Regions from separate parts of the Homo sapiens genome. Here regions 1, 3, 4, 5, 6 and 7 are each linked to region 2. Evidence: fine-mapped expression QTL. A gene starts in region 2. Each other region holds a variant in brackets. All regions are shown on one strand. Distances are from middle to middle.

Region 1 (4,553 bases), 240 kb after region 2:
AAGAATGGGGCCAGGAAGGGGTCTCTGGTGCCCCTGTTTTTCTTAAAGAGTCCCAGGCTCTTGGAGCTTGAATATCCACTTTTAATGAAGCTGACTATTATCTATAGCACTGTTTAATAAAAGTTCTTTTAAGTTTCTTATTACCCGACTTTAGCCAGGCCCAACAGCCAATATTTTTGTGCTTACAGAAAGGAAAATTCAAGACTGTTCATGGAGGGGAAGAGGATTTAAAAATGGCAAATGTCACCCAAATATCAATCAGAAAGTACTCATTCCCTAAGCCGGGAATTGAACCATGAACCTGGCAGCCATTGTGATAGAGAGACTGAGGAAAACATTTCCACGTGGTTACAAGCTCAAGCCCCCAGGGACGTTTAAGACAAGATGGAGACCTCATCTACTTTTATTTTCTTTTTCTTCTTTCAGGGACCTGAAGCAAAGTTTATAACTGACCAATTTGCATCTCGAACAGTGGGCTTATGGTGTTTTAGGCATGCATTTTATCCCAAGGTACCCCTTTTAATGACAGAACAATACAGAAAGACACACAAAGCACACCAGATTCACTACAGTTTAAGACCAGCCTCAGAATTCTTTTTCATATTAACTAAAACTTTACAGAGGAGATAAACAGTGATTTTTACTATTCATTTAACCAGTTTGCACAGAGAAAAAGAGGCCAGGATTTCTCTGACTCACGAGGCATCCTTAGCATTTTGTCGGCATGCTAGGCTTCTGGGTTCCCTTTCCCCGAGGGCCCCACTGACCCGGCTTGCTGCACCAAAGCCAATGCAGCCAAGCCACAGCACAAAGGAAAATTATCTTTTTCTGCTCTGGCCAGAGCAAAATACATGTGACAAAACATAGATGTTAGCCACTCTGCTTTGCCCCCAATATCAAACTGGCAAGGCTCAAACTTGCCCCCAGATTGGCCCCATCATCTCTAAATCTTTCTAAAAGCTTCTGCATATTAATATGCATCCCTAGATGAGACTAATTTGTGAACCCTCATTTTTAAATGCACTTTTGTGCATTGTTCATTTGGAACATTCCACTGTAAGTTACCTTTAGTAAGATTTTGCCATTTCTTTAAGACTTCATGGCCTCCCAGGCCTAATGTATAAGCCAGAAGGAACTCAGTTTTCTAGAAACTAAGGATCCCATTTTTGATAGCATTAGTATTAAGAGAAATACGTAATGTAGATGACAGGTTGATGGGTGCAGCAAACCACCATGGCATGTGTATACCTATGTAATAAACATGCATGTTCTGCACATGTACCCTACAACTTAAAGTATAATTTTAAAAAAAAAAGGATCCTATTTTTACCTAAAATATTGGCTTTACTCTCAGATTCCCTTGATTAACTTAGCCAATTGATATGGTTTACTGTGTCCCCACCCAAATCTCAACTTGAATTATATCTCCCAGAATTCCCACATGTTGTGGGAGGGACCCATTGGGAGGTAACTGAATCATGGGGGCTGGTCTTTCCCATGCTATTTTCATGATAGTGAATAAGTCTTGCAGGATCTGATGGGCTTATCAGCAATTTCTGATTTTGCTTCCTCCTCATTTTTCTCCTGCTGCTGCCATGTAAGAAGTGCCTTTCACCTCCTGCCATGATTCTGAGGCCTCCCAGCCATGTGGAACTGTAAGTCCAATTAAACCTCTTTTTGTTCCCAGTTTCAGGTATGTCTTTATCAGCAGCATAAAAACAGATTAATACACCAATGATTTTTTTCTACCTAAGCGCACAGGGAAAATGAAACAAAGGGGTGGAACACAAAAATCCCTGTGAATTTCCAAAAGCCAAATTTTATAACCCCTACAATATCAGATCCCACTTCTGACACCATCTATTAAAAGAAAAACTTGAGCCAAATTAAATCTAAAGGAGTTTAATTAAGCAATGAAGGATTCACAAATTGGACAGCCCCCAGAATCACAGCAGATCCGAAAAGACTCTAGCACGGCCATGTAGTGGAAGAATATTTATAGACAAAGAAAGGGAACTGACGTACAGAAATTGGAAGTGAGGTACAGACAGCTGGATTGGTTACAGCTCAGGGTTTGCCTTATTTGAACACAGTTTGGACACTCAGCAGGGTGAGTGGTTGAAGTACAGCTGCTGGAATTGGCCAAGACTCAGCTGTTGTTACAGGCTCAGACTCCTAAATTAGGTTTTCAATCTTGTCTACCTATTAAGTTAGGCTGCAGTTTATCCACAAGGACTCATAAATCTGGAAGTACAGAGTCCTTCTTGGGCCATATTTAGTTGCTTTAACACACCTATAACAAATTAACTTTACCAAGGTGTCTTCCAGTCTCAGCTTCTCACATGCTAGTAAGAGGAAGTTTTTCCAAGGTATCTTCTGGGCTCAGCTCCCCACTTACTGGTAAAAGGAGCAGTTTTGTGCATATCTTGCTGGGTTTGTCTTTCCAGTCATCACAAGAGTGGCTGCACCACACCCCATCACTTTCTGTGTGGAGTGGGCCCAGCTCCAGCTCTGTGCAACAGTAAACCAGTGACACTGGAATTCATGTGTTTATACACTCAGCTTTC[A/G]CATGCTTCTGCATCAATTTTTTAAGACTATTTCCAGAGTGGGATTGAGACCTAAGTGAATCGTCCCAGGAATAGGGTTCTTGAGAAATGATTGCATGAGTAAGGCTGCAGTTAACACCACCATGACTAATTACCAGCAAATTGAACTCCTTCTGTTCTGTGAAAGTTGCTAGTACCAAAATAGGTTCACTCATATCAAACTCTAACAAAATGGGGTGGGGAGGCCATGACGGGGCGCCCTCATACACAAACACCTGGACAAGCCTCATCTCAAGGCACCCCTGCACGGGCCTCAGGTTCGCCCATATTAGGATGCATTGCACGAAAATTCCTCAAGACAGGTCGGTATTACAGGTGAGCGGCCTGCACAAGGAGCTAACGCCAGCTCTGGGACAAGCTCTGCTAACCAGTGATTTTTGTTACAAAGCAGCTTCTGTGGAGTTCTCTCTGTCTTTAAAGATCTCCCCTTTGCCCTGGCCCCTCCAGTGTGCCTGTGATCTATCATAGCATGCAATCCCGTGCTATTCTCACTTAAATTTATTTGTTCTGGAGAGCCTGTTCCTTTGAATTTCCTTTTAGGTGGACAGTTCAAGACCCCTAACACATTAATCCACTTAATCCAAAGAGCTCCTCTTGTATCAGGGAAGGCCACAGGGACATCCCTGTCTTGTTCCTGACCTTGGAATTGCATTGCTTAGTTTCCAAACATGGGATTTCCCAGTTATCTTTTGTTATGAATTCCTGGCTCTCTGCCACTGTGAACATTATCTGTATGATTTCAGCCCTTTGAAACATGTGGACACTTTTTCATGGCCCAGCATACGGTCAAATTTTGCAAATGTTGTAAACATTCTTTCTGTATTGAAAACTTTTATGGTTTCCTGTACTCTGCAGCTATTTCCGATTTTGTCTTTTGTGCCTTGAAGCAGAGTGAGTCTTATCATCTGTGTCTGAGCCATCTGCTCCAAGGTTCCTGTGGTGCTAGTCGTGTCTTCTCTGCAGGATTGATTCACTTTGCAAGATGTTTGGTGCACTGAGACACTGGAAAGTTGGCAGCATCTTGAGATGTCATCAGTCCAGGGCCACGTTAAGATAATTTCGCGACTTGAGGGTTTTTTAGGCACTGTGACATTAAGCTAATTTCACAACTGTGTGAACCTGGGCCGCAGGGCTCTTCCTTGTCTTGTCCCCTGCTCTGCTGTAACCTGGCAGTTGTTGAAGGATGGGTTATTTCTGATCCACGTTTTCCTGAGGGTGAAGACTTCAGCTCCTATGAAGACTGCCCACCTGCCCCATCCCCCACAAAGACCCCACCGCTGGCATCCTGAGTGCCTTCAGGAGAAGCCCTCTGAGTGCTGGCTCGGGGGTCTGACAGATTTTTTTGACCACAGCCTCAAAATTCCTGACTCCTGGGTGGGCTCTTCAGTATATGCAAGATGGCCTCCAGGATTCTGGCTTTGTTCAGTGGAAGGGTCGACTTAAGCAGGTCACGCAGCAGTTCCTGGTGGTGGTGACTCCCAGCTTCTTTAGCTCAGCTCTTGAGTGATTTGCACTACACAGAAGGTACTGGAGACACAGTTACCTTTTCTGGAAATCAATGTTTGCAAGCACATTTGCCCTCCAAAGGTTGAAGGTTGAGTGAATTTGAAGTGGTTGGAGATTTGTTTGTAAACCACTCTTCTGCAGAATGAGAACGAAGTTGCTGCTTGGTTTTGAAGATACGGCCTTTTGTGGGAGGGCAGAACAGAAAAATCAAAGCTTGGATTTAGAGTTAAGGACACAGGAAAAGAATTATGAATATTAAAGACTGAGTTAATATGTGTCATATAGCAAATACTTTACATATTGCATGCAACATAGTAAGCTGTTCTATGTAACGGCCTCCACATTTCAGGATATCACTTGGTGACATTTCAAGGCATTTCTAAGAAACAAAACGTTAAACTTAATATTGGGCCAAAATATTGATTAAGGCAGCAGCTGAAC
Region 2 (4,553 bases):
CCTTCTCTGTGCCCTTCAACTCTGGAGTGAGGTCAGATCTTGGCTCTGGGGCCACCACCAGCTGTTTCAGGCTTGCAAAGTTCTGTCCGACAAAATACAGCTCCGCTTCCCTGTGGGGGGAAGCATTGGCCCCAACAGGCCTTCTTCACCAACGGGGACAGCAGTCCCTTGAGTGGAGCCCTGGACTCAGGGAGCTCTGGTCAGTGAAACTCTCAGCTAGGGGCTAAGGGTATGGGGACCTTCATATGTGGGACAGGCTCCTCGCTGGGGACGCTGCCACCAGGCCTGTGAGGCAGCCAGCCAAGTTCCACTTGCTGCAGCTGGGGCTGCTCTGGACGGCCAATCCAGACACCTCCCCCCTCTCCACCCTCTTTCCATCCTCAGGTTTGCATTTCTTAGGTCTGGCACTTCAACTGCAAAGTACAAGTCCTGGGCTATCTCCTCCTGCTCTGCTGAAGGCCACATCGATGCTTGGAAGGTAGGGTCAGCCCAGTCCCTTGCTCCACACACCCAACTACACTGATGGAGCGACCGTCTACACAGGGATCCTACGGTGGGGAGTGAGCCTTGCTGGCCTGATGCATGGCAGTGGTTCCTGCTCCAATAAGACCAAGAATAATTAATAACTGTGACTAAGTTAGAAGCTTTGGCTGCATCTGAATTCACCAGCGTTTCCAGCTCCTGAGGCCATGTGCGGTGTCACCTCACTCCTGGCAGACAGACTCCCACTCGGAGGATGATTTTTCATAGCCAGGGTCGCTCTGTGGACCTTGGATGGACCAACGTGCTTTCCATGTCCAACTTTGTCAAGATCCGGGGAAGATTCTCCAGCAAGTCTCTTGGAAACATGTGCATGTGGCCCCAGGCGACGTGAGGGGTGCAGTCTGCCTGCGTTATGCAATGCTCAGGCCAGTTTTCCCTGAGAGAGGAATGCTGCCGATCCTCTGCGGTAACCCACAAAACTCCACGGAGATGCTTGGAAGGAAAAGCATCGCGTCCTCCAGATGTTTTGAAATGTTCAAGTATTTAAAAGGGAAATGGAATTTCTGTTTATCCTTTTAAGTGACAATTATTCATTGCGTCTTCCTGGCCACAGCTCATTCAGCACTACTGCAGATCCGGCCAGACCCCCAGGAGCCGCGGCCCCTGCACAGCCAAGGCCAAGAAGCTCCCATCGTGGAGGGGGGCGCATTCCGGACCTGTGAGGCCCGGGGTTCGTTTTTATGCCTCCTTAAAGGGATGAGCCAGAGAAGAAAGTCTTCGCAAAGCCTTTGCCCCAGGAGGGGCGGGGCTGCGCAGGGCGCCTGTGGAGGCCGTGGCCGGGCAGGTGGGGAGGCTCACACACAGGCCAGAGGCTTCCCTGGAAACTGACGCCCTAGGGCAGGTCCAGCTCCTGGATGGTCGCAGGTGAAGAAACGCCAGGCCCAAGGGTCCTGGGAGAGAGAGGGGAACAGCGCCCAGGAAGAGGTGCAGGTTCCCAGGGACTGCAAGGGCCGCCGCCACCCTCCCACACCCCACCCTCGCTGCATCACCAGTCAGCCCAGGGCAGGCTGCTGACCCTCCCTTGGCCTCAGTTTCCTCATCTGTAAAATGGAAAAAGAAGCATGTCCACCTCACCAGTGGTCACAGTCACAGGTGCTGACATGGAGAAGGATTGATGCGTCCTCCTGAGTGCTGCCTTGTCATGCTATAAACCAGGAGGCCTGGCTCTCTGCCTCCCGGGAAGGTCTGTTTCTAATCCTGTGCTGGGTCTGCGTGGCTCCATGGCCTCAGAGGCTGACACCGAGTGTGGTGTCCCTGGGTCACCGTGCTCCTTGGTTTGGTCCAGCAGGAGAAAGGGCAGCCTGCCAAGGAGAAGGCTGTGAGCTTGGCAGGGGAGAACTTAGGCGCTGTGCCTTTGGGAGGCTGGGATTTAGATCACAGCTGGGAAGCTAAGTCCTGACTGCACTGGCCGGAACCAATGGGCTCCAGTAGCCGGATGCTCTGCCAAGTCAGGAGGTAATAACCGCCACGGCCTGGGAGAGAAGCTGGCACAGCCGTGGGCCCCTGCCCTGCGGTCTGGCCTCGCAGGTCCCCAGGCCGTGTACAGACACTGTGCGGCAGGGAAGCAGAGGCAGCCATGGGGAGCAACCCTGTTTCTCAGTGCTACATGCCTACTCTCCCTGAGCTGATGTCTGGAAGACAGTAAAGGAGACCTGAGGCAGTGCTGCCCCTCCTTCCGTCTGCCACCTCCTCAGGGCTGGCCCAGGCCCTGCAGAGCAGGTGGTGGTGGCTGCTGGTGGTAAAGCCCGTCCATCCAGAGCCTCGCTCTGCTCCCAAACCACCCACCTCCCGCTGCACATGTGGCAGCTTCAGGAGCCTGGCGGGGCTAAGAGGAGATGACAGACCCCAGCAAGGACAGGCTCAGCTTCTTGGGGACCGAGTCATTGCCTGTTGCTTCTCCTGGGGGCCTCGACTGTCCGAGTGTGTTCAGGCACACGGTGCCCTGTCTGTTTCCCAGGCACTTGGGCCAAGGCTGGACAGGGAGGTGCCATGTGGGACGAAAGCCCAGGCTGTGCAGTGCTGGTCACCGGGAGTGACCATGGGTGAAGTCGCGCTGTGAGTGACTGCCTGTTATCACTGACCACGCAGGGCCATCCTGGGTGACCCGCTGTGCCACAAGCAACTGGTTCACATTGGAGCCCCCCTCTGGAGCCCTGGGCAACCCGCTGCCAGTGGGCCTTTCTCCTGAGGCCCCTGGAGTCCCGGAGCATCCCGTGAGTTCATCTGCCATACCTGTGATTGCCATGTGGGCCCAGCGCCCTCCAATGGAAAAGCTGCATTCAGTTCTGCCCGAGGATCCCAGGCCTACGACACTGTCCTCAGGCTGCCAGGGAGCAGGAGGCTGTGGGGATCTGCGTTCTTGCCAGGCCTGGGAGCAGCAGCCAAAAAGTGGACTTACGTGGACAAAATGTTGGGCCAGGGAGGAGCCCTCGGCTCTGGACGGATGTCTCTGGTGCTTTTATGCCACGTGCATTTCTGCAGATTTGATGCCCGGCAGCCAGCACTGGGCTGTGGCCATGGTGGTGAGGCAGCCTTGGGTCTGCACGAGGCTCGGAGGCCTCCAGGAACCTCCCAGGAATGTGACTGTGCCTGGAGAGAAGCGCCATCTGCACGGCGCAGTCCAGATGCTTCTCTCCTACAAGCCCATCATCAAACACACAGCTGCCCAGACTTCAGCAGGATTTGTGCACAAGAAACGCAAAGGCACAGTCCATCGGGTGAGGCAGAGGTGGAAGGAGCACCGGGGTGGGAGTGGAGGAGCACCGAGGTGGGGGCGCAGGAGCACCGAGGCGGGGGCGCAGGAGCACCGAGGCGGGGGCGCAGGAGCACCGAGGCGGGGGCGCGGGAGCACTGAGGCTGAGCTGTCTCTAGTGATCTCTCAAGCCTCAGTGCAGTGGCCACAGGGCAAGGTGCCTCCTGGTGTGTCCTCGCCTCCAAATCAGGCTGCTCCACTTCCCAGGTCAGAGTCCTGGGGGGTTGTGTTGACCCTGAGCCCCCACGAGCATCCAATCCAGCAGAGCTGGAAGGACCCAAGAACCTGCATTCCTCATGGCTCCCATCATGCTTCCGGTCCAGGAGCCACCATCCAGACCACACTCCCATTCATCCCCTGGCCACGGAAGCTGAAGCCTTGGTTTCCCCACCTGTAAAGTGGGAGTATCAACATCACCCACATCAAAGGGCCTGGATTAGATGCGGTGATGCCCGTGGACTTTAGCAGCCCCGGTCCTCCAGGGGCCCTCCCAGGGAGCTGAGGCCCGGGTGGTCCTGGCGGCCGCTCCTTCTCCAGGCCGAAGACAGGAAGGTCTCTTGGGCTGACCTCAGGCAAGAGGCGGGGTGGGTCACGGCCTCCAGGGCCAGGCTGGGGCCTCCACAGAAAGCCCGTGGGTGGCGAGAGGGAGCCGGCTGGGGTGACTGAGGGTCGCTGGGTAGATGAGGGAGGGACCCGGGGTTCTTGTGTTCACGTGTGTATTTGCCCCGTGTTTCTGCTGACATGCCACGTGTGCAACAAACAGGCTTGGCGAGCCATCCCCACCACCCAGGCCGAGACGCCAGACGTGACTGGCACCCCAGGGTTCCCTCCCGGCCCCCAGAGGTAACCCCAATGCTGGTTTACCACAGATGACTCATTCTGCCTGTTTTAGGGTTTTGAGTAAATGAAACCCAACAGCGTGCAGTCTTTTTGCCTGGCTTCCCTTTAACCACGTCTGAGAGGCTCACTTTGCGGTTGCTTCTGTGGCTCCTGGACAGTTTCCCTTGTGCGGACACAACTCAGTGAGAGCACCCCTTCTTCCATTTGTAGACTTTCCAAATAGTCCAGGCGAGAGAGGCTCAGGTCTTGAGTTCAGGGAGGGGCAATGCACAAGCAGACGCCAAGTGGAAGGGAGTACACCCCTCCCTTGGCGGGGAGGCCCTCGGGCTGGTGGGGATGAGCGCCCCTCAGACGGCACCTGCGGGTGACAGGGTGTGACATTCTGCTGTTTCTCGGAAGTAACTCGCAAGCAGCATGG
Region 3 (4,553 bases), 48 kb after region 2:
GAAAGAGGAGGTAACACCCCACGGGGAAGACGCTCTCCAGAGCCAGAAGAAAGCAGCGTTCTTATCCTTGTGGATGGCTGTTTCAGCTCAAAACAACCCTTACAACAGTGTGGCTTATTTGGGCAGCCCCTTCTGCCCCTTGACAGGCACCTCGCGAGCCGGCGCACCCCCCCGCCCCCAGGACCCGCTTCCCGCACCCGGGGCTCCTCAGCCAGGGGGAAGCAGGTGTGACCCCCAGGCTGCAGGCTCCCCTCCTTCTGATCTCTTCTTTTGAAGAGCCCACAGCCTCTCAGCACCCAGGAGGCCTCAGCTCTCTGGGCAAGTGGTGGGTGCAGGGTGGGGGCCTTGGCCTCACACACGCTCTGGCACTGCCTGGCCTCCTGGGACGGTTCCTCAGAGGCACCTGCTTTGGACACTCTGATGTCGGGAGCCCCGCGGATGCTGCCAGGATGGGAGAGGAGGCCGCTGTCTCTCTCCAACAAGTGCTGGGTCGTCTGGAGCAACAAGGGCAAATGGGCGTCACTGGGGTCTCCACAAAGCCACCTGCAGTCTCTTGGTGGGTGTATTAGACAGTTTCCATGCTGCTGATAAAGACATACCTGAGACTGGGTAATTTATAAAGAAGAGGTTGAATGGATTCAGTTCCACATGGCTGGGGAGGCCCTGCGATCATGGTGGAAGGTGAAAGGCACGTCTTACATGGCAGCAGCAGGAGAGAATGAGACCAAGCAAAAGGAGAAACCCTCATAAAACTTTCACATCGGATCTCGTGGGACTTATACCACGAGAACAGTATGGGGGAACCGCCCCATGATTCAATCACCTCCCACCAAGTCCCACCCACCACACAGATTCAATCACCTCCCACCGGGTCCCGCCCACCACACAGATTCAATCACCTCCCACTGGGTCCCGCCCACCACACAGATTCAATCACCTCCCACCGGGTCCCGCCCACCACACAGATTCAATCACCTCCCACCGGGTCCCGCCCACCACACAGATTCAATCACCTCCCACCGGGTCCCGCCCACAACACAGATTCAATCACCTCCCACCACACAGATTCAATCACCTCCCACCACACAGATTCAATCACCTCCCACCACACAGATTCAATCACCTCCCACCGGGTCCCGCCCACCACACAGATTCAATCACCTCCCACCGGGTCCCGCCCACAACACAGATTCAATCACCTCCCACCACATAGATTCAATCACCTCCCACCACACAGATTCAATCACCTCCCACTGGGTCCCACCCACCACACATGGGAATTATGGGAGCTGCAACTGAAGATGAGGTTTGGGTGGGGACACAGCCAAACCATATCAGTGGAGACGCGCAGGGGCTTCCGGCCCCCATACACTCCCACCTCCCACTGCCCTGTAGGACTCTCCTGGCTGTTCCAGAAGGGGCTTCCATTCTCCACGTTCCCTGGGGCCTCGTCCTCCTTGCCCTTCTACTTCCTCTTGGAGGGGCTGACCTTGGCCCTCCTGGGCTGACCCCAGCACAGCTGTGCCCAGAGTGTGAACGGAGCCCCCTGGCTCCCGACACTGCCTGAGGCCCTGCCGGGAAGTGTGGCTCCAGGAGGACGGGCTGGCCTCCCGGGGAGGATGCCCCCACCTGCAAGGGTTTGTCCACCACCCATAGCCACTCCTGGACTGGGGCAGACCCCACACCTCAGCATGGACTAAGGAGGCCGGCCAGGCTGAACCAAGCCTCACCCTTCCCTGGGAGAAAGGCCTGGGTTGGTGTCCCCAAAGCCACACCTCCTCATTTTTCTCATACCAGAGCTGACTCACAATAGAATTACCAAAAAAGAGGAATTCAAATGGAGCAAGGAAAGGAATAAAGAAATGAGGCAACGTATCATGGAGTCTTCACCCAGAGCCCCCCTTAACCCTCTCCTGCCTGGAGGGACAGCAGCCACCTGCCTAGAGGCGCAGTCCGTTCTCTTCTCCCAGGGCCTCCAAGTGGCCTCCCCCTCTGCATTCCTGGAGATGGCAGCACGTGGTGGTCTGTCTGCCCAGCACTCCTTGAGTGGACACACCTTTCCTGAGGTTATCACAGGGCCGGACTCTCACCTGAGGCACCACAGGTGAATGCCACTGTCAGAGCAGCGCTGCCCATCACCAAAGATGTCAACTGTCACCAGTGATGTCACCTGTCATCAGGGCGGTGCCACCTGTCAGAGCAGCGCTGCCCGTCATGAGGCGTCAACTGTCACCAGCGATGTCACCTGTCACCTGTCAGAGCAGCGCTGCCTGTCACCAGAGATGTCACTTGGCATCAGCAATGTGACCTGTCATCAGGGCAGTGCCACCTGTCAGAGCAGCATCACCCATCACCAGGGACGTCACTTGGCATCAGCAATGTCATCCTGCTCCCCAGGTGCCACCCTCCTCCCTGTACCCCCCACCCCTAATGCCCACATGTGCAATTCCCAGTGGGTACCACTGGAAAACCAAGGCAGTCCTCAGAAAGAATAAAACATCTGTTTTAATTGGCCAGTAAAATACATTGCAAATCATTAGTATTTTATAAACAGAAACATTAAGTTATAAATCCATGTTAAAAATTGCAGCTCAGTGCAGCCCCAACAGCTGTGTGTCCAAAAGTCTATTTTTACAACATTTTCCTCCAGTATTTTTGTGACAAGAAAGTTCCTATCTGCCATCTAGATCAAGAGCCTGAACTACAGTATTTTCAAACAAGAACCGGGAGAAGTCGGTACAAGGATACGTCGTGCTGTGTATTTAAACGGC[G/A]CTTCCCACACACCTGCCGTCTGCATCCCGGGAGGACGCCCTTTGGGAAAGGCCTCCTCGGCAGTGTGAGGTCTGGAGGGGTCTGCCTGGACCCCATTTTTAGGATGCTCCCCTCCCCAATAAAACAGCAGCCCCCGCCCCTGCCCTGCACAGCATCTGGGGGTTCATAACACAGGTGCAATACTGACCATGGGCCCTGGAGGGACGTCTGCACCCCGAAGCCCCTGTACCTCAAACTCAGAGTTTCTTCCCTTCTTTGATTTTCTGGAGGACCTGCAGCTGGCCTTCCTGAGACAGGCTCCATTCCTGTTCCATTTGCCTTCCCGGCAGCCTTCCCTTTAGTGGGTATAGGTTTTGACGTTCTGAGTTACTTTGTATCAAAGAGCTAATTAAAAATGGTCCTTCAAAAACATAAAGAAAAACAGCTTGAAAAATGTACATTTCTATTTTTAAAATCTTCAAACTTCCACGGGGGGTGGCAAATGTTAATTCTGATTTTAAACCCCATTCAACAGCAAAACGATGTGGGCTTCAACTGTGGGCTCCGCAGACGCCTGGAGAAGCTGGAGCCCACACCTTTCCCTCCAAGGGACTCTGTGGACAGAACCCGTATCCCCCAAGCACCAAGGACATCCTCAGACTGGGACTTCTGTGTAATTCTGCACCTCCCAGCCATAAAACTGACCCCTCAGCCAGGAATCAAACGAACCTCGAAAGTGGAACAGGGAGGCCGCCTCCCATGGCTGCCTGGATGGCAGGCACAGTGGGAGAGTAATGCTCTGAACCTCCCAATGTGATGAAGCCGAAAGCCGAGGCGGGGCCAGCAGGCCTCCCGGGCACAGAGCCACAGAGCCCAGCGTCACACGCACCGTGCACGCAAGACAGACGTGCACGAGACTGACGCACACACGGCCGGAGGTGCATGTCACAGTCGACTAGACGGGCCGTGGCTCCCTGAGGCTGGCTGTGGTGTGGCTAGGGCACAGCCCACACTTCCTGATCCTTCAGCTGATCCCCAGATCCCCACAAACAAGGAGCAAAAAGCACAGAATCAAATGACGACACGTTCCACAGGGCCAGGTGGGCTTTCTGCGGAGGGCGTGGCGGTGGTGGCAGCGGTTCTGGGAGAGGGAAACCCCAGCGCCACTTGTCTATGGGCCGGGACGGCGTGCATCTCACTTTGCCGGCTCTGCGCTCTTCCTTCTCTTCTCCCTCCCAAAGGCTGCGGCTTTGCATGGGCAGCTTGCTGGCGCCACTGGGCGCGTCCCGCAGACTTTAAATGGAATGAGTGGAGGTCTCGGACTGCTGCCGGATGTAGTTCTGGAAGCTCTTGTCTCCGATGGGGTGCTCCCTGAAAAGGGGGATGGGAGAGGGAATGAGGCACAGACCCCGTTGCCTGGTGCTCACCCGTGGCTGCGGGAGCTTTTCCTGTTCCTAAATGTGACACACTCACACTGCAATCCACACAAAAAATAGAGGAGCCAAAGGAACCACAGTGCCCCCGGAAGCACCCACGGTGACTCTGATGTGTGTGCACAGGTGGGTCAGGCGTGCAAGTACATGTGCACGTGTGCTCTCCCTGTGGCACGTGTGTAGCGCATATACATGTGCAGATGTGGAATATGTAGAGTGTATGGCACGTGTGCAGAATGTGCACATCTGCACTGCAAAGAGTGTGCTCATGTGTGGGGAGCATGAGCTCCAGGGACACAGATCTGTCCCAGTGCTGGGACACTCAGCAGGCGTGGGCACCTCCTCCCCACATGCACACCTCCCTCATAC
Region 4 (4,553 bases), 220 kb after region 2:
GCTTTATTTATTAACTTTTTAAAGATCTCTCAATTGGTTACATAACAAACCACCACCAGCCTAGTGGTGTAAAGGAAGCAGCATCATTTCCCGAAATTCTGAGGGTTGGCTGGAAGGTTCTCGGGGCTGAGACTCCTGGGCTGGGCTGGGGTGGAAGAGGGCCTCACTCACACGTGCAAGGCCTTGGCAGAGACATGGCCTCCGAGGCACCTGAGGTCTCTGTCATTCACTCCCTCATTCTCAGGAGGCCAACTCGGCCTGCCCACTTGGCAGCAGAAGGTTCCCACCGCAACAGCGGGGACGTCCAATGCCTTTCAAGCACTTCCCAAGTTTCTGCTGGTGTCAGGGCTGCTTTTGTCCCCTTGGTCAAGCTGCACCGTGTGTCCAGGCCCAGCGGTCACAGGGGAAGGGCCATGCAGGCTCGGTGTATGGAGGCAAGTCTGGGCACCATCACAAACTCACCATTTCAACAAAACACTCATTGTTTCTGAACTATCTTTAAAAACAACTTTTAAGAAATAAGAAAAGCTATTTCCAGAGCACTCACCAGTGCCACGTGCACACGGATCATCTAATTCTAGGGGGGCAACTGCACGGTTTGCCCCCGACCGTCCAGTGTTAGTGTCCAAGGAAGCCCCTCAGTTCCGAGGTGAACCAACAGAACAGATCACCCTGTGAGGTATGAAGTGTTGTCCTCTGCATTCGACAGATGAGGAGGTTACAGCTGCGAGACTGTAGGCGGTTGCCCGGGCGCTCTTCCAAGTAGGTAGCAGGGCCGAGTGAATGAGCCTAGGCACCGCCCGGTATTGCTGCAACAGCCAGGCGGCGCTTTGACTTCTGGGTCAGTGTCACTGCCTACCTGAATCACTCACTTCCTGTAAAATACTTGATTCCAAATTACTTTGGTCTGTATTGAAAAATAAAATTCAAGTTTACCTTTAAAGACAAAGATTTGCCATATTTAAGGATATTTTAGAGAACGTGCTACTGACTCTGAAGAAGAGGCATAAAACCGCCTTGAGGAACGGCATCGTCTGTGCTGAAGCAGGCAGCGCCCAGCTGACGACTGTCAATGCAGCCCTAGCAAACACGGCCACGCTGCCCTCCATCCAGGGTCCTGTCCAGTGCTGTGCTAAGCACTTCACGTGGTGACAGCTAGCTGCACACCAGGCACGGTCAGGTGCTTAGCGTTTATTAAGTCGTTCAATTCTTCTGTAACCCCATGAAATGGATGCTATTGCTAGAGCTGTTTTCTACAGAGAATTTAAGGATTTTGCCTAAGGAGATGTCACCAGCAAGTAGCAGACCATGGTTTGAACCTGTCCCCCAGTCCCAAGTCTACACATAACTGTTGTCCCACGGGTGATAGGTGTGACAGTCCTAGGCTCCAGCTCTTTCCCCGGCGCCACAGTGCCTGCTGTGCTTGGAGACACCACCCTCACCTGACTGGGAGAGCTCCACTCAAGGACCCGCACAAAAATAATCCCAGCTTCCGTGGTTTCCTCACACCATTCCCCGCTCACAGTTTACCTCCCTAGGAACCCAACACTGTTTTCCTGTAGCTCATCACTTCACAAATGTATTGCCTTTTGTTAAAATCGTGAATAAGCCTCTGGTCTGACTGCCTCTGCGGGGTTTTTGTCTCATTTCGTGAAGCCGCCACATGCATATGAAGTAACGCTTTTTCTCCTGTTAATCTACTTTTGCCAGTTCAATTTGCAGGACTCCAGTCACTAAAAAACATAAGTGAGTGAAGGAAAAGTTTTTTTCCTCACCACCTGTTTGTTGGAAAGCAAGTAATGGCCCACCTGGTATTCTTTTGGTCAAGACACAACGGGGAAATGGGGCTCCGGTCAGGCCCCTCAGGTTGGGCCTAATTGGAGCAGAATCGGAGGGGCCTGGGCTTCTTGCTGCCAGTGGCAAATGTCCAGTCAGGAAGTCACACGGGCAGCAGCAATGCCGGCAAGGGACGCTTGTAGCAGGAACGGGGCAGCCTCCCTTACTCAAACAAGACGCGGACTGCCTGAGGCCGGCAGCTCAGAGAACAAAAGGCAAGTGTGAGGGGGACGGGGTCAGTACTCAGAAAGCTCCATGTGCCTTCCTGCTGAAAGCAACATTGAAAGCACAACATGTGCATTTGGTTAAAAACGCTGAGGGCTTGTGCTGGGAGGCGGCAGTGGTGGCCTCAACCATCTCCCCGTCCGCCCGCATGGCAACCACGACGACTATTTCCTCTGGTCAGGCATTTCCAACCTCCTCCTGTTATTACAACACTCTCTACTCACTAATTTTAGATAGAGTCTGTGCCAGACTTCCGACTACGATAGTGAGAATT[C/T]AGCCAACTTGCTCTGAAGAAATCATACAGGGCCTAAACTTTCTGAGTCCGTATGAGTCTAAAAATATCTTTATTATTCCCACACACTTAATTTAGGGTCCAGGATAAAAGCAGATTTTGCCGAGAGCCTAGAGGCATCACTCCACCATCTCCACCACTACATCCCTCCATCATCTCCATCACTACATCACTCCACCATCTCCATCACTGCATCACTCCACCATCTCCATCATCTCCATCTCTCCATCACTCCATCACTCCATCATCTCCCTCATCTCCATCACTCCATACTCCATCATCACCATCTCCATCATTCCATCATCTCCATCATCTCCATCATTCCATCACACCATCATCTCCATCATCTCCATAGTCTCCATCACTCCATCACTCCATACTCCATCATCTCCATCACTCCATCATCTCCATCATCTCCATAGTCTCCATCACTCCATCACTCCATGCTCCATCATCTCCATCACTGCATCATCTCCTCATTCCATCATCTCCATCATCTCCATCACTCCATCATCTCCATGCCTGTTGACATTTTCTCAGGACCTGCCTGCACGCCTCGACCTCTGCCTTGGAAGGTCTGGGCTGCTGTGTTTTCTGCTTGTTTCTTGCACACAACGTAAAGTTGGGTTTCACTTTGCGAATGATCCCACGAGTCTTTTTGTTGAAGAGGTGAGTCGAATTTATTTACTTATGTAGACTGAGAGGAAGGATGCAGTGGCCCTTGGTTTTGTCATATTTCATGTTATAGTTTCTAACCAATCCTCTTTTAAAAATTTCACTAAGCATTCTGTGTTCCACTGTGGGTGTGTCTTGATTTGGAAGGTTGATGTTTTTGTTCCAGGAGATACGTTTGCTCAGTTTTCCTTCCCCTTGTGGCCACACTTCTCTGCTGCTCTCATCGTTTCATTTGTGCCTTTCCCGTTTTTTGTCTGTTGGTTTGTCTGTGCCATGGTGTGATCCTAGCTCACTGTCACCTCCAACTCCCAAGCTCAAGCACCTCCCGCCTAGGCCTTCAAAGTGCTAGGATTGCAAGCGCCGCCCCACGCTCAGCCCCTTTCCCTTGTTAAAAAGTGCCTTACTCTCAAGAGGCTGAGGCAGGAGAATCGCTTGAACCCGGGAGGTGAAAGTTGCAGTGAGCCGAGCCGAGATCGCGCCATTGCATTCCAGCCTGGGTGACAGAGCAAGACTCTGTCTCAAAAAAAAAAAGCCTTACTCTGTCTGTGTCTAGACCCTGTGGGGCTTCTCTGGTTAAGGGGGCCTGTCCTCCTTAGATGAGCTGTCCCAGGAGGCTGCTACTTCCTGCAGCTGCTGAGGCTCACCCTCCTCTTTCCACCACTGAGGCCCAAGGCTCCAGTTGCTCTGAGGAGTGTGGAGGCCCGTGAGGTGTGGGGGTGCGGAGTGGCCGTGGAAGGTGTGTAGGGGATTGCAGTTGGGGTTGGGTGCTGGATGTGCAGGTAGAGTATAAGGGTAGGGGGTTAAGGTGTGGGGCATGGGGGAGATTGGGGAGGTTGGGAACATGGGGCAAAGTGGTGGGGGATGGGGGATGCAGGGGTGGGGATGGGGGATGCAGGGGTGGGGTGTGGAGTTATGGTGAGTGGGGGGCTGTAGTGGGGCGTTGGGGGTGGAGGGGGCTGTGAGGGTGTGGGGTGTGGGTCATGAGACATGGGACAGTGGGGGCTAACGGGGTGGGTGGGGTGTGGGGTGTGGGATGCAGAGTGTGGGAGCTCAGGGAGTTAGAAGGTCGAGTTAGAGGGTGTAGGTGTGGGGGCATGATGGTGGGGCCTGGGGGAGGGGGAGGGTGCGCAGGTGCAAGGTGTGAGGGTGGAAGGCTGGGAGACCGGTAGTGTGTGCGACTGTGGGGTGTGGAAGTGGGGGACTCAGGGGAGGAGTGGGGTGTGGAGGTGTGGGGCACGGGGTGGGGGGTTAGGGAAGGGTGGAATGTAGGGGGAGTTTGATGTAAGGGTGGGGGCTATGAGGAGGGGTGGGGTGTGAGGGTGAGGGTGGGGGCTTTGGGCAGGGTAGAGGTGTGGGGCATGGGGTGGAAGGCTGTGGGAGCAGTGGGGTATGGGGTGCAGGGCATGAGGGTGAGGGGCTAAGGGGAAAGTGGAGGTGTGGGGCATGGGGATGGAAGATTAGGGCCAGTGGTGGGGTGTAGGGGTGTAGGGTGTTACCTGGAGGGGGAAGGTGTGGGATGCACGGT
Region 5 (4,553 bases), 68 kb after region 2:
GGCCACAACAACAGCGAGGTGCATCTCACGGAGCATAACCAGGGGGACCGCCAGGCACCCAGGCCTCCTCCTTAGGACCGGCAGATATGACCCAAGCCTCTGTGCAACTGCCAGAGGCCCGGCTGATGGGGGGCCCTGCTGATGGGGGGCCTGACAGGGGGCCCAGCTGACGGGGGGCCCAGCTGACGGAGGACCCAGCTGATGGGGGCCCGGCTGATGGGGGGCTGGCTGACGGAGGACCCAGCTGATGGGGGGCCCGGCTGACGGGGGCCCGGCTGACGGGGGCCCGGCTGACGGGGGGCCCGGCTGACGGGGGGTCCGGCTGATGGGGGTCCGGCTGACGGGGGGCCCGGCTGACGGGGGGCCCGGCTGACGGGGGGCCCGGCTGATGGGGAGGCCCGGCTGATGGGGAGGCCCGGCTGATGGGGGACCCGGCTGATGGGGGGCCCGGCTAATGGGGGGGCCCGGCTAATGGGGGGCCCGGCTGATGGGGGACCCGGCTGATGGGGAGGCCCGGCTGATGGGGAGGCCCGGCTGATGGGGGACCCGGCTGATGGGGGGGCCCGGCTGATGGGGGGGCCCGGCTGATGGGGGGCCCGGCTGATGGGGGGCCCGGCTGATGGGGACCCGGCTGATGGGGGGCCGGGAAGACAACGGGCTGCTGCGTCATGTGGAATCAAGGTGGGTGTCCTGGGCCAGACGAAGCTTTCAGGGAGGGGCTTGCTCCCAGCCTCCTCCTAGAGAAGCAGGATGGCCACGGCCTGGGGAGTCCCCCTTCACCCTGACCTCCCGCTCCCCCGGGGCAGGGCCTCAGGAAGACCCTCGAAGGCCTGTGGCACCCTGGAGTCTGCGCAGAGCCTTCCAGAGGCTGGGCCCCAGATGCTCCCTCGAGGGAGGACCCCTCGGGTGGGAGGCTCCTGGGAGGAGGCGAGGGCAGCCCTGTTTATGTGCAGCTTACAGGCAGGCATGCACTGTCTGCTGGTCCCTCCCTACTCAGCCCCTTGGCCACATTTCCTGCACAGTGCACGAGCTGGGCACCGAGGCACAGACCTACCCAGTGCAGGGCGAGCAGCCCGGAGCCGAGTCGGATGGCGCCCTACAGCACAGCCAGTGGCCGCTCAGGTAGGCGGACGGGTGGTAGACGGTGAGGCGCTTCTGGTTGCACTGGCTCACTTTGGTGAGAATGTCGATCCAGTCCTTGGCCTCCACGCAGTTGTTGGCCTGGATGTACAGCGCACGCTCTGGCTGGATGACCTGGAACATCTGAGGACACAGGTGGGCTCAGGACAGCGCACATGAGGTCTCGTGGCTGAGCACGTGCAAGAGTCCACCAGGCACCTGGCCGTCCTCGCCGGAGTCGTAAGAGGGGACGCTGAGGGTGCACAGGCCCAAAAGTCCTGGAGCTCTAAGCCCCAGAAGAGGCCAAGGCCAGGGGGTGCATGGAGCTCTCTGCCACCCTAAAACCTGACAGCTGGGGCCGTGGGGAATGGAGGTGAGAACTGGTGCAGCTGGAGATGTGGCCAGGTGGCCAGGAACAGCTTGGCCAAGGCCCTTTATGTCCTGGAGCCTTGGAGGTCTCCATTCAAGACAAAAGAGGGGCCCTGTGGCCTCCCCACAAGGCCCTCCTGCAGCTGACTGCAGGCATCCCATCCACGTGGTGCTCGTGCTGTGTCAGCCCAGGTGGCCCGGCCTGCTCAGCTCCTTCCCCAACTGACCAGCCCAGGATTCTTCCTCCTCCTCCCAGCTGGGGTTAGGGGGCTGCTTCCTCTTGAAGCGTCTCGGGGCAGCAACAACCTTTACCATTTATTACTCATTCAACAAACATGACTGAGCACCAGCACTCTCCTATGTCCCGGAGACAAAGCCTGGCATAGAGTTTCTACTGAACCTGCAGCCACCAAGAAAGACTAAACGAGGGCAGGTGTCAGCAGAAGCTGGAAGTGAGCAGTCCTGGTGCTGTAGTCGGCGTTGACTCAAAGTTAGTTAAGCAGGGGGTGGGGGCAAAGGGTGTCAAAGGCAGAAGAAATGGGAGGCACAAAGGTCCTGGGGCAGGTGGGACAGGGGTCCTGTGATTGGAGGGACAGGTCTCCCGGGGCAGGAGTGACAGAAGCCTTAGGATTAGAGGGACGGGGGTGCTGGGGCAGGGGGGACAGATATCCTAGGATTGGAGGTCAGAAGCTCCCAGAAGGAGCCGGCTCTGTTGCACACAGAAGACAGGTTTTCTGAGTAGGAGACTGACTGGAGGTTGGGAGGGCTCTCATGTGGGACTTGCCCTTAAGTCAGGAGTCAGGGGGACAGTGGCCTTCTCTAGGGGACGGGCCTTCTGCACTCATCTGGGGAGGATTTGGGCTCCAGGTTTCTGGTGAACAGCTGAGGTCTTATTTACAGAGGCCAGGAGCCTCCCGCCTTGCACCCGGCACATGTGTATAGGTCTCGGACTGGACGCCCCCGTGCATGGCTGTGATCCCCCATGGAGGGCGTCCTGGCCATCATCCCAGGCTCGGCCCTGCCACCAGGAGCAGCCTTCAGAAAGGTCTCCCCAGCTGGTGAGAGCCTGGCCTGGCAGTGGCCTCAGGGGAATCGGGCTCTGAGGAAGTCAGTGGGAATGAACAGCTGGGAACAGGCGGCTGAAACTAGGGAATTATTGGGAATCTATGTGAAGGGC[T/C]GGAGGTGCTTCCAGGACATGTCCACACTGCTTCCTTCGAGGGACGGTCTCAGGGCCAGGTTCCGGCCATCCCCCTCAGTCAGCAGGCATTGAGCCCACACCCTCCTCTTCCCATCTCCCCCTCTTCCCAACCCTTCTCTTCCCAGCCCTCCTCTTCCCAGCCCTCCTCTTCCCATGCCCTCCTCTTCAAATTACTCTCCAAACTTATGCCTTTTGCAGGATCTGTCTGGACTGCCTGTGAATAACATGCTAGTAAAATTCTGCCAATGGTAAGGAACATGCGTCAACTTTGGCACGAGGCCCAGGGACTGTGCCTTCCCTGCAACTGTTCTATGACCCTCATGCTGCAGTCGGGGCACAGAAGGCTTGTCCCAGCCAGCATGTGTCAGGGTACGGGGTCAGCCTCAGGATGGCACGGACGGCGGGGTCACTGGCTGAAGGGGCACTGAGTCACCAGGGAGAACGTGGCCAGCGGCCGACTCTGGGAGGCCACCACACAATGGTGACGCCACGGACACCTCTAGGGGATTCCCGCCAGAAATGCATCATCAGAACCTGCCACGTCGGCACATCCGACAAACCCACAGGGAGGGATGTCCAGAAAACCGAAGGCCTGCACGCCTCAAAGATGCCAAGGCCACCACACACAAAGAAAGGCTGGGAGTGTCCAGTGGGCCAGACGGAGGGGGCAGCAGAATGCAGCGCAGACTGGATCCAGAGGGGAAGGAACCACAGCCGGAAGAACGGGACTGGACAGCGGCAAACTCGAATGTGGTCGCGCCGGCGACGTGCGATGGTGGCTGCTGTGGTTTTGGGGACTGCACGGTGGGAAACACACTTGGAAGTGTTGATACATTCAGAAAAGCACGGGCGGGACCGTGAAGGGAGAAGGAACAAGTGTGACTGGGGAACGAGGCGACATGTGGGTCCGGGTCAAGCGTGACCGGGGAACGAGGCCACACGTGGGCCCGGGTCAAGCGTGACCGGGGAACGAGGCCACACACGGGTCTGGGTCAAGGGTGTGTGGAAAGTACTTGTTCTACTCGTGCAACTTCTATAAATTCAAAATTATATCAAAATAAAAAAGCTTCCAAAAGGAATTCCAGACGGTCCCAAGCCTGCTTCTGGGATGTCTTTGACAGAGGGCCCCTTGACATTGGGGACCCTGCGGGGGACGCCACCTGAAGCAGCTCAGGCCCCACCTTCCGGCAGGTTCCACCCCACCCCGGTGACCCCGGGCACAGAGAGTGTGGCTGCTTTGATGCGAGATTCCGACACAAACTCACCAGCACCTGGTGAACAACCCGAGTAACACGAAGACTCTGAGAAGCCTGGAGTGCAGTGGGTGGGGAAGGGTGAGCCCAGGGCCAGGTACGGGAAGAGAGCAGAGAAAACCTGGCCAGGCCTCAACCCGAAAGAGAGGCTTGGGGGCCCCACACTCACGTTTTTCATTTTGAAAGACTCCTCCTCCAGCTTCTCCACTGCCAGGATGTTCTCGATGGGAATGCTGTAGAGAGGCTGGTCCCCTGCAGCAGAGATGGACTGTCAGTGGGTGCGGGCCCCGCTGTCCCGGCTGGGGTCCGGGTGGGGCTGAGGGGTCTCTGCCGGGGGGTCTCCCAGGGGGTCTTTACCGGGGGGTCTCTGCCAGGGGGTCTCTACCGGGGGGTCTCTGCCAGGGGGTCTCTGCCAGGGGGTCTCTACCGGGGGTCTCTGCTGGGGGGGTCTCTGCCAGGGGGTCTCTGCCAGGGGTCTCTACCGGGGGTCTCTACCGGGGGGGGTCTCTGCCAGGGGGTCTCTGCTGGGGGGTCTCTGCTGGGGGGGGGTCTCTGCTGGGGGGGTCTCTGTCAGGGGATCTCTACCGGGGGGTCTCTGCTGGAGGGTCTCTGCT
Region 6 (4,000 bases), 41 kb after region 2:
CCCAACCTTGGCCTCCTGCAAGCCTCCGTCTGCGTGCTCGCCTTCCTGCACCTCCTGCATGCTGGCCTCCAAGTCGCTCTTCTCCCTCTCTGGGTCTTGTTTTCCACTCTCATGACCCAGCTTCCCAAGGGTGCTGAAGCTTTCCTTCTTGTCTTGTGCTAGGTTTTTCTGACTGCGGGAGGAGCAGGGAAAGTGGTTTGGAAGAGACGGCAGATAGCTGCGGGCAGCTCCTGGTCTCCTCTGGGTCTGTCTCCTTGGGCTTGAGGCTGGTGCCCCTGGGGTCTGGTGGGCACCTATGAGGTGCCCTGACCCAGCACAGAGTTCTGGCTCTGAAGGGCCCCACAGCCTGGCCCTCCTGGCTCCCTCTGCTGGCCCATCTTGCCTGGAAAACTTACCCTGTACAGCCAGGGTCTGGACTGGGATTACAGCCAACCTGGGCTTATTTTGGAAAGCAGGGTCTAACCTTGCTCAAAGAACCAAAATCTGATGAGAAGATGCAGCCACCCTGTCGCAGATCCACACTCCATGTGGATACCAAATGGGCCATGCTGGCCAGTAGGCTGGAGGGTCCACGGTTGGCCCTGCTGTTACTCGCACCAACCTCGTGACCCCTTCTGTGGTCTGCTATGGTGTGTGGCCAGGGGCAAGAGGAATGCAACAGGCAGTGAGGATGACAGGGGCTCCGCCACCATCTGCAATGGCGTTGACTTGGCCGAGGGTATTGACTGACTTGGCCAACGTGAGCAGACGCTTTCAGCTTTGCCACCCTAAAGGTGTGTGGTCTTCCCAGCTCAACTGCCCTCACCAAGGCCATCAGCTTCCCTGAGCTCTACGGAGTGGGAGGCTCCAGGCGCCGCACACATCCTGTCTAACACACGAACACTCACTCTCACCAACTGATTGCACCTTTGGCCGCTTCGGCGGCCGGACACCTTCCTTGGTCTCCACTCAACGGGAGCCATTTGTAAATAAGGGGGACTTGGCCCGTGCCTTGCCATGGTGCTGGTAAATCGACTTTGTTAGATCTGAGACAAATTTTTGAGGAATTCAATGACTTTTAAGTCTTCTTTGATGGCAGGAGGGTGAGTGGGTGGGAGAACCAGAGCTGGGTTAGAACGGGACGCGAGGTGCAGGGAGGCAAGAACTCGGCAGTACGAAGTGGGGATGTGCTGTCCAGGGCCCCACGCCCTCTCCCTAAAGGAGCACTCGAGTTGTTTACATCTAAGGTGGGCCCAGCAGTCCACTAGTGAGACGACGCCTCCTTCCCCAGAGGGCCATGGGGTGTCTACTGAGAGGGATGCAGCTGTGTGACCCTCAGGCCAGGGCCCGAGTCCTGAGGACACCACCCCGCTACAGGTGGGTCCTGTTCCCACGCTGAATTCCTCTCAAAATAAGGAGGATTTCCCAGCCCTCCCATCCAGGCCCTGCGCGGGGTCTTCGCAGGACCCAGGGCTCCCTCTGTCCCCTTCTAAGTGTCTACCTTGATGCCCGGGTACCACTCCCACACCCCACCCTCTCCTGTGTCCACCTCACTTTTCCCAGCTCCACCTTCACAAAGGCCAGCGTCGGACAGGCTGCTTACCAGCTGGCATCTTCCGCGTTACTGCTTGGGTCTTTCCCTTGATCTTCGGACTCTGGGGAGGAAGGACAGAGCCGTCAGCACCATTACACCGCAGCTACCGGAGCTCAGGACCTGCCCCAAGCCGCCCACAGCCACCCACAGCAGAGCTCAACTCTCAGCCATGGCTACAGCTAACTTGAGTTTCTCCCCGACCTGTGCCCATGCCCGGCCCTCCGGTATTTGCTATCGGCACTTTCCACAGCCTGGTGCCAGGGCCTTGAGCCTGGCTCAGCCCCAGCAGCTCAGCCCACACCTGGGCTCCACCTTCTCCCTGCAGGACTCAGGGTGAGGCATGGCCAGCCGCCTTACAGTAAACACATGAGGCTCCGGGACCTCTTGAAACTCCTCTTTGTCCTAGCACAGCTGGCTGGAGGTAGCTGAGCGGGAGGGTGGGAGAAGCCCACAAGACCTGCCCATGCCGGCTACTACCCCC[A/C]ACCCAGGCTTCCTCTCACGGACAGGTGGGACTTGAAACCCCACTTGGCTTGTCCAGGAAAATCCACCAATCCCCAGGGTCTCTGGGCTCCCCGAGAGGCATTGCGGGATGTTTCTAGCAGTCTTTTTTCGGGACCACTTTATGTCTCGTGAGGATCTTTACCTTGATGTGACAGAGGACAGGGGCCCAGGAACATCAACTCGGGTGAGCGGTGCTCTGGTGCTCCCGGCAGGAACCCAAGCCTGGCTGTTGGCCACCGGCTTGCACCGAGCACACACTGCTCCCTGGCACACTTGGCTAAAGGTGTTGACTGACTTGGCCAACGTGAAACATTCCATTCTAGTTAAACACTGAGTTCTCCGTTCCCAGGAGCTTGCAAACCAGCACAGCCTTGTGAGGAAGTCATGTGGCAGAGGATTCTCCAAGCCCTAGGTGCTCAGGAGAGCCTTGGAGTGAGCGGATTCCAGATCCCACAGGGCCTCCAGCCGCATCGGAGCCGGGAATGTTTGCGGAGACCCTGGCTTCCCGCAGCTACTCCCTCTTCCCACAACACCCCCTTGGCCCGGGATTCAAATACAACAGGGATGATTCCAAAGCTTTAAATGATGCTTGTGATGGAAGAGACCAGACCTCCTCCCAGAGCTCGGCAGAGTCACATGGGCCACTCCAGGCAGGTCACTCAGCTCAGCCCACAGGCCCAAGGGGCAGCTGGGGAATGGGGCTCTTCCAGGGAAATGAGACCAATGGCCGACCACGAGGGGCTGCCCCCAACAGAGAAGCCACGAGTGGGGCCCAGAGGTGGAGCGCAGAGCCTTTGCAGAATCAACAGGCGTCCAGGGTGCATGTGGGCTCAAGGCAGGGCCTCAGTGGGTCTGGAACCCAGCGGATTCTCACTGTGCTCTTGCCGGCCTCTCTGGGCTGCCCTCCGTGAGCGCTGGTCTCCTGTGCTCCGCATGGCCCAGGCCCAGACACACCCCACTGGTGCCCCCGTGAAGTCGGCCACCCCACGTCTCCCGCATCCCGGAGGCCTCCCTGTGAAGTGGACGCGGCGTCTCACACATCCGGGCACCTGTGGGTGCACGTGGCACTGGGCATGTCATGGAGCCCACCAAGTCTGCGAGGGGTGAGGAGCTGAGTCCCTGCAGAAACCAAGGCCACGTCGGACTCTACCAGTGGTCAGCAAGGCCCGGCCCTTCTCCTCGGGTCACAGGGCTGGAAATGCCTCCTGCTCTTCTCCGGCAGAATCTCAGTTGTCTGGGGGCAGCCACAAAGCTCCAGGGAGGATGCGCTCCTGGGCCGTGGTCTCGAACCCTGAGGGTGCTGGTGCCTGGGGGAGGCTGTGCAGGGTGGACATCTTTGCCAGACAGGACAAGCGGCCACACAGAAGCCCGGCCTCCCTGCTGCGGCACCTCCCATCGTGCAGTTTTGGGCAAATCCAGCAGGTGTTGAGGGAAATGTCAGCCACAATGGGGCTCAATCCCTCCCTCCATCCGACCCCGGCCTCTAAGTCCGCACTGTGGTGGCATCGGGCGGCATTATTGGAGATCCACTCCCCGCCCCAACTTAAATTCCCGCTAAGCAGCCTTGGCGTAACTTATTCTTTTGAGAACTTTGCACGTCTTGAGGGAACCCCGTGGGGAGGGAGGTAGGGTGCAGCCTCCTAACTACTCACGCCCCCCAAATAGCACATATTTGGATTTTTAAACTCAGAGAAGAACACATATTTTTACATCATTACCTCTTAAAATTGTCCCCAGGGCTTGAGCAAGCAAACCCCGAGTCCTACCGGGCTGTCTCACTTCCACGGCCCCGTGGACACCTTTGCGAAGGGGAGGCGGAGCTGCCGAGGCCGCGGGAGGGGAGGGGAGCGCCAGCTCGCAGCTCCGTGTCAGCCCCTCAGCCCTGTGCTCTGGGCCAGTATTCAAGGTGTGAGGAGGTGACTGCAG
Region 7 (4,444 bases), 26 kb after region 2:
TAGAAAGCCCAGGCGGCATCTGTGCCCCATAGGACTGAAGGCCAAGGGCAGCGTCCTTCTAGGGGGAGCCTGGGCTTCCACCCCTCCCTGGATGTCACCACAGCTGATTTGCTGAGCTCAGGGCTGTGCATCTACAGGGGGTTCCTGCCCTGGGCCCCTGCCTGGTCCACTCCATCGACCCCAGCGCTGCTGCCTGAGCCTCTCAGCCCAACGGGCCGGGCAGCAGCAGGAACACGCTCATGCTGGGCGGGGCGGCGGGGCAGAGGCAGCCCCCGGCCTCAGCAGCATCAACCACGTGGCAGGAGCTGCTCTCGGGCTCTGCGGCGCGTAGACCTGTTTCCTCAGGGATGTCTCCTGCTCCCCACAGTCTCCAAAGCCCAGCCTCGTCCCCTCCACTAAGACGGGGCTTGGCCTCACCGCTGACCATCCTGGACGCTGACTGCCGCTGCCAGGACCCTCTGAGTTCAGCGCCCACTGAGCCCTTCCCCAGACCCCCGGCCTGGCACAAGGCAGCCCCATTCCTTGGGTGTGTGGCTGCTGAGTGCCCTGAACAGCTCGCTCGGGACCTGCCCGCTTCTCTGATGGGAGTTGGGGCCCAAGCCAGGTGGCCACTCACATCCCACAGGGCGTGTGCCTGCGCCACGGAAATCTCCCTGAGGTAGGAAGGTGTGAGCCAGGCCTGGCCGCCCTGGAGTGCCCAGAATCAAGGCTCAGAGGAGCAGCACGTGGAACTTTACCCCCCGTGGCAACAATCACCTCTCCGGGGTCCCAGGAGTCAGCCCTTCCCACCCCAGCACTGGCCCTGATCAGCTCTTCCCCCGGACACTGTGACCCCCACCCCACCAGACAGTGAAGGAGGAACAGAATTACCCTGGGTTTGAGGAAATGAGCTCAGAGCCCAACAGAAGGCAAAGGCGCGTCTGACTCTGGAAGGCTCACATTCTAACAGCTAAGCCACTGCCAAGCTCCTGTGTCTGCAGAGCCATGGGACCTCCCTGTCCTAGAGGTGGCTGCCGCCAGCATACCCAGAATGAGGCCAGCCACACGCGGCGACAGGACGAATACACGGGTGGACAGACTCATGCCGATGTTTGCTCTGTGGGGGAGGGTGCTGGGAGCCACCCGGCAGAGCTGCCGCCTCCTGCCCCACCAAGGGGACAAACCAACCGTATTTCCGGAAGCTTCTCTGGGTGCCTTTCTGGTTGGCACAGTTGGAGGCCGCAACTGAGTCACACCCAACTGCCCGGCAGCCTGTCCAGGACAGCCCGTCCAGGGCCCATTTCCGGTTGTCTGGGAAATGATGACTCTGGGGCCGATGGGCACTTATCTTCTGTGGTGTCTTTCAGTCAAGGGTGGGTGCTGGCTTTGGGGGGTCCCCTTTCTCTCTGCAGCCTGGATGGTGCCCCACTTTGATCAGAGGAAACTACCCAGTGGGACAAGCTCTGCGTGGCATGCGGCTCCCTGAAAAGGGCCCCTCCCTCCCTGGCTGAGTGATGGGCAGAGCTCACCCTCTGGGAGCCTCTGCATTATCATGTGCACCACAGGGACGGCCCCCATGTGTCTCCACGGGAATAGACAGTGCACACAGCATCTCCGCCTGTGGCCTCTGACTGCCTTAGAGACACCCGGATCAGAGATGCTGCAGGTCACCTGCCCGTGCCCTCCTGTGCACATGTGTGGTATGTACGAGCATGTATGTGCTGTGTACATATGAATATGCACGTGTGCGTGTCTGAACGAGAGGGCTCTGGGTGGATTCTGGTGAAACTCGTCTTACAGGCATGTCCTGGAGCCCCCCACACCCCTAGGAAGACTCCCTCTCCTCCTCTGAGTGGGGAGCATGTGGCTTCCCTCCAGGGACAGATCCTAGTGCCAGCACCACAGTCTCTGTTGCTCTCGCAGTCACAGCCGGGGCTCAGCTGCGTCCACCGTGCTCCTGGCTCCTGCAGGGACTTTGGTGACACAGCAGATGCTCCATCCCTGCCCTGCACCTCTCACTCCTGCCTGGTGGGGGTGCTTCCAGGAGCTGCAGCTCACACGAGGCCCACAAAGGGCTGAGCCTCCCCTGCTGTGCCCCAGGGGCCTCTGTCCCCACCCAACAAGCCACTGAGCAAGAGGCCAGGGCAGGAAGGGGCTGGAGTCCTCCAGCTGGTGGAGACGAGGAGCAGCTGGTGGAGACGAGGAGCATCCGGTGGAGATGAGGAGCATCCGGTGGAGATGAGGAGCATCTCGTGGGGAGGAGGAGCATCTGGCAGAGACGAGGAGCATCTGGCGGAGACGAGGAGGAGCATCTGGCGGAGACGAGGAGGAGGATCTGGCGGAGACGAGGAGGAGGATCTGGCGGAGACGAGGAGGAGGATCTGGCAGAGAGGAGGAGTAGGATCTGGCGGAGAGGAGGAGTAGGATCTGGCGGAGAGGAGGAGCATCCGGCGGGGATGAGGAGCATCCAGTGGGGATGAGGAGCAGCTGGTGGAGAGGAGCAGCAGCTGGTGGAGACGAGGAGCATCCGGTGGAGATGAGGAGCATCTCGAGGAGAGGAGGAGCATCTGGTGGAGAGGAGGAGCATCCCGTGGAGACGAGGAGCATCCCGTGGAGACGAGGAGCATCTGGCGGAGACGAGGAGCATCTGGCGGAGAGGAGGAGTAGTATCTGGCGGAGAGGAGTAGTATCTGGCAGAGAGGAGTAGTATCTGGTGGAGAGGAGGAGTAGTATCTGGTGGAGAGGAGGAGCATCCGGCGGAGAGGAGGAGCATCCGGCGGAGACGAGGAGCATCCGGCGGTGACGAGGAGCATCCGGCGGAGA[T/C]GAGGAGCATCCGGTGGAGAGGAGGAGCATCTCGAGGAGCGGAGGAGCATCTGGCGGAGACGAGGAGCATCTCGTGGAGCGGAGGAGCATCTGGCGGAGACGAGGAGCATCTCGTGGAGAGGAGGAGCATCTCGTGGAGAGGAGGAGCATCTCGTGGAGCGGAGGAGCATCTGGCAGAGACGAGGAGTAGTGTCTGGCGGAGACGAGGAGTAGTGTCTGGCAGAGACAAGGAGTAGTGTCTGGCAGAGACGAGGAGTAGTGTCTGGCGGAGAGGAGGAGTAGTGTCTGGCAGAGACGAGGAGTAGTGTCTGGCAGAGAGGAGGAGCATCCGGCGGAGACGAGGAGCAGCCGGCGGAGACGAGGAGCAGCCGGCGGAGACGAGGAGCAGCCGGTGGAGACGAGGAGCATCTCGAGGAGAGGAGGAGCATCTCGAGGAGAGGAGGAGCATCCGGTGGAGAGGAGGAGCATCTCGCAGAGAGGAGGAGCATCTCGCGGAGACGAGGAGCATCTGGCGGAGACGAGGAGGAGCATCTGGCGGAGACGAGGAGTAGGATCTGGCAGAGAGGAGGAGTAGGATCTGGCGGAGAGGAGGAGTAGGATCTGGCAGAGAGGAGTAGGATCTGGCGGAGAGGAGGAGTAGGATCTGGCGGAGAGGTGGAGTAGTATCTGGCGGAGAGGAGGAGTAGGATCTGGCGGAGAGGAGGAGTAGTATTTGGCGAAGAGGAGGAGCATCCGGCGGAGACAAGGAGCATCCGGTGGAGACGAGGAGCACCCGGTGGAGACGAGGAGCATCTCGAGGAGACGAGGAGCATCTCGACGAGAGGAGGAACATCCGGTGGAGAGGAGGAGCATCTGGTGGAGACGAGGAGCATCTGGTGGAGAGGAGGAGTAGTATCTGGTGGAGAGGAGTAGTATCTGGTGGAGAGGAGGAGCATCTGGTGGAGAGGAGGAGCATCTGGTGGAGAGGAGGAGCATCTGGTGGAGAGGAGGAGCATCTTCCCGTGCTTGTTTATTGTGTTTGTTGAAGGTCACGTCATCACTCACCCAGTGGGCAGTGGGTTTCAGGCGTGGCTCACACCTGGTGTGGTCATCGGCACCCCAGCGTTGCTCAGAGCTGGCGGGATCTTTAGCCCAAAGGCGCAGTCTGTGCTCTCGCTCCTTCCAGGCCTGGCCAGTCCCACAAGAAGAAAACAGAAACCTCAGTGCCTGGCAGAGAAGGCTCTTGGGCGGCAAGTAGGTGGCCGGATCGCCCTCCGTCCCGCCTCCTGTGCCCCCAGCCCCTCTGCACCCCGTCTCCTTCCTCTTCTTCGCCAAGCTCTGAGCACCCTCTCCGGGGCGCTAGGTGCTCTCCTTTGCCCTCTTCCTGGTGGAGTACGGGATGCAGCACACCCAGCTGGTCTGCATCCTGCAGGGCGAGAGGAGGGCAGGTGGGTGAGAAAGGGTCCTGGGCCAGCACTGTGGCCACAGGCACCCCGAGAGCAGCACCCCCAACCTGAAGTGCACTGGGAGGTCTGCCCTGCACTTGTGTATGCACCCCCTTTCATCAAGTGCACTGGGGAGTCTCCCCTGTACCTGCATATGCACCCCCGTTCATCAAGTGCACTGGGGGGTCTCCCCTGTACCTGCATATGCTCCCATTTCA

Which allele goes with the higher level. Positions count from the first base shown, and alleles are read on the strand shown. Sizes are in standard deviations (SD) of each study's normalised expression. Not every link is listed here.
For the expression in testis of the gene that starts at base 1,946 in region 2, C is the low allele of the variant in region 6 and A is the other (moderate effect, 0.44 SD a copy in GTEx).

Evidence for each region.
Region 1: its variant is fine-mapped to the expression of SWINGN in whole blood (TOPMed, PIP above 0.99).
Region 3: its variant is fine-mapped to the expression of SWINGN in whole blood (TOPMed, PIP above 0.99).
Region 4: its variant is fine-mapped to the expression of SWINGN in whole blood (TOPMed, PIP above 0.99).
Region 5: its variant is fine-mapped to the expression of SWINGN in whole blood (TOPMed, PIP above 0.99).
Region 6: its variant is fine-mapped to the expression of SWINGN in testis (GTEx, PIP above 0.99).
Region 7: its variant is fine-mapped to the expression of SWINGN in whole blood (INTERVAL, PIP above 0.99).

Annotation. Positions count from the first base shown.
Region 1 is chr13:114,171,354-114,175,906 of GRCh38, forward strand. No RefSeq gene overlaps it. Among named protein-coding and RNA genes, the nearest start is that of CFAP97D2, 5.6 kb to the right of the region's middle. The variant A/G (reference allele first, on the strand shown) is at 2,568.
Region 2 is chr13:113,927,046-113,931,598 of GRCh38, forward strand. It overlaps SWINGN (SWI/SNF complex interacting GAS6 enhancer non-coding RNA), which reads right to left and starts at 1,946. Exons shown (of 1, transcript NR_047495.1): 1 at 1-1,946. It also overlaps a transcript of C13orf46 not described here. RefSeq lists an enhancer at 3,892-3,961.
Region 3 is chr13:113,975,301-113,979,853 of GRCh38, forward strand. It overlaps RASA3 (RAS p21 protein activator 3), which reads right to left. Exons shown (of 24, transcript NM_007368.4): 24 at 2,483-4,122. The coding sequence ends at 4,047. Among named protein-coding and RNA genes, the nearest start is that of C13orf46, 3.5 kb to the left of the region's middle. RefSeq lists an enhancer at 3,588-4,088. The variant G/A (reference allele first, on the strand shown) is at 2,772.
Region 4 is chr13:114,151,021-114,155,573 of GRCh38, forward strand. No RefSeq gene overlaps it. Among named protein-coding and RNA genes, the nearest start is that of RASA3, 21 kb to the left of the region's middle. RefSeq lists enhancers at 1-277, 278-778. The variant C/T (reference allele first, on the strand shown) is at 2,336.
Region 5 is chr13:113,995,477-114,000,029 of GRCh38, forward strand. It overlaps RASA3 (RAS p21 protein activator 3), which reads right to left. Exons shown (of 24, transcript NM_007368.4): 20 at 4,109-4,191; 21 at 1,055-1,263. Among named protein-coding and RNA genes, the nearest start is that of C13orf46, 24 kb to the left of the region's middle. The variant T/C (reference allele first, on the strand shown) is at 2,666.
Region 6 is chr13:113,968,589-113,972,588 of GRCh38, forward strand. It overlaps C13orf46 (chromosome 13 open reading frame 46), which reads right to left. Exons shown (of 7, transcript NM_001365455.2): 2 at 1,583-1,634; 3 at 7-172. Among named protein-coding and RNA genes, the nearest start is that of C13orf46, 3.5 kb to the right of the region's middle. The variant A/C (reference allele first, on the strand shown) is at 2,055.
Region 7 is chr13:113,952,633-113,957,076 of GRCh38, forward strand. It overlaps C13orf46 (chromosome 13 open reading frame 46), which reads right to left. Exons shown (of 7, transcript NM_001365455.2): 7 at 1,073-4,207. The coding sequence ends at 4,141. Among named protein-coding and RNA genes, the nearest start is that of C13orf46, 19 kb to the right of the region's middle. The variant T/C (reference allele first, on the strand shown) is at 2,803.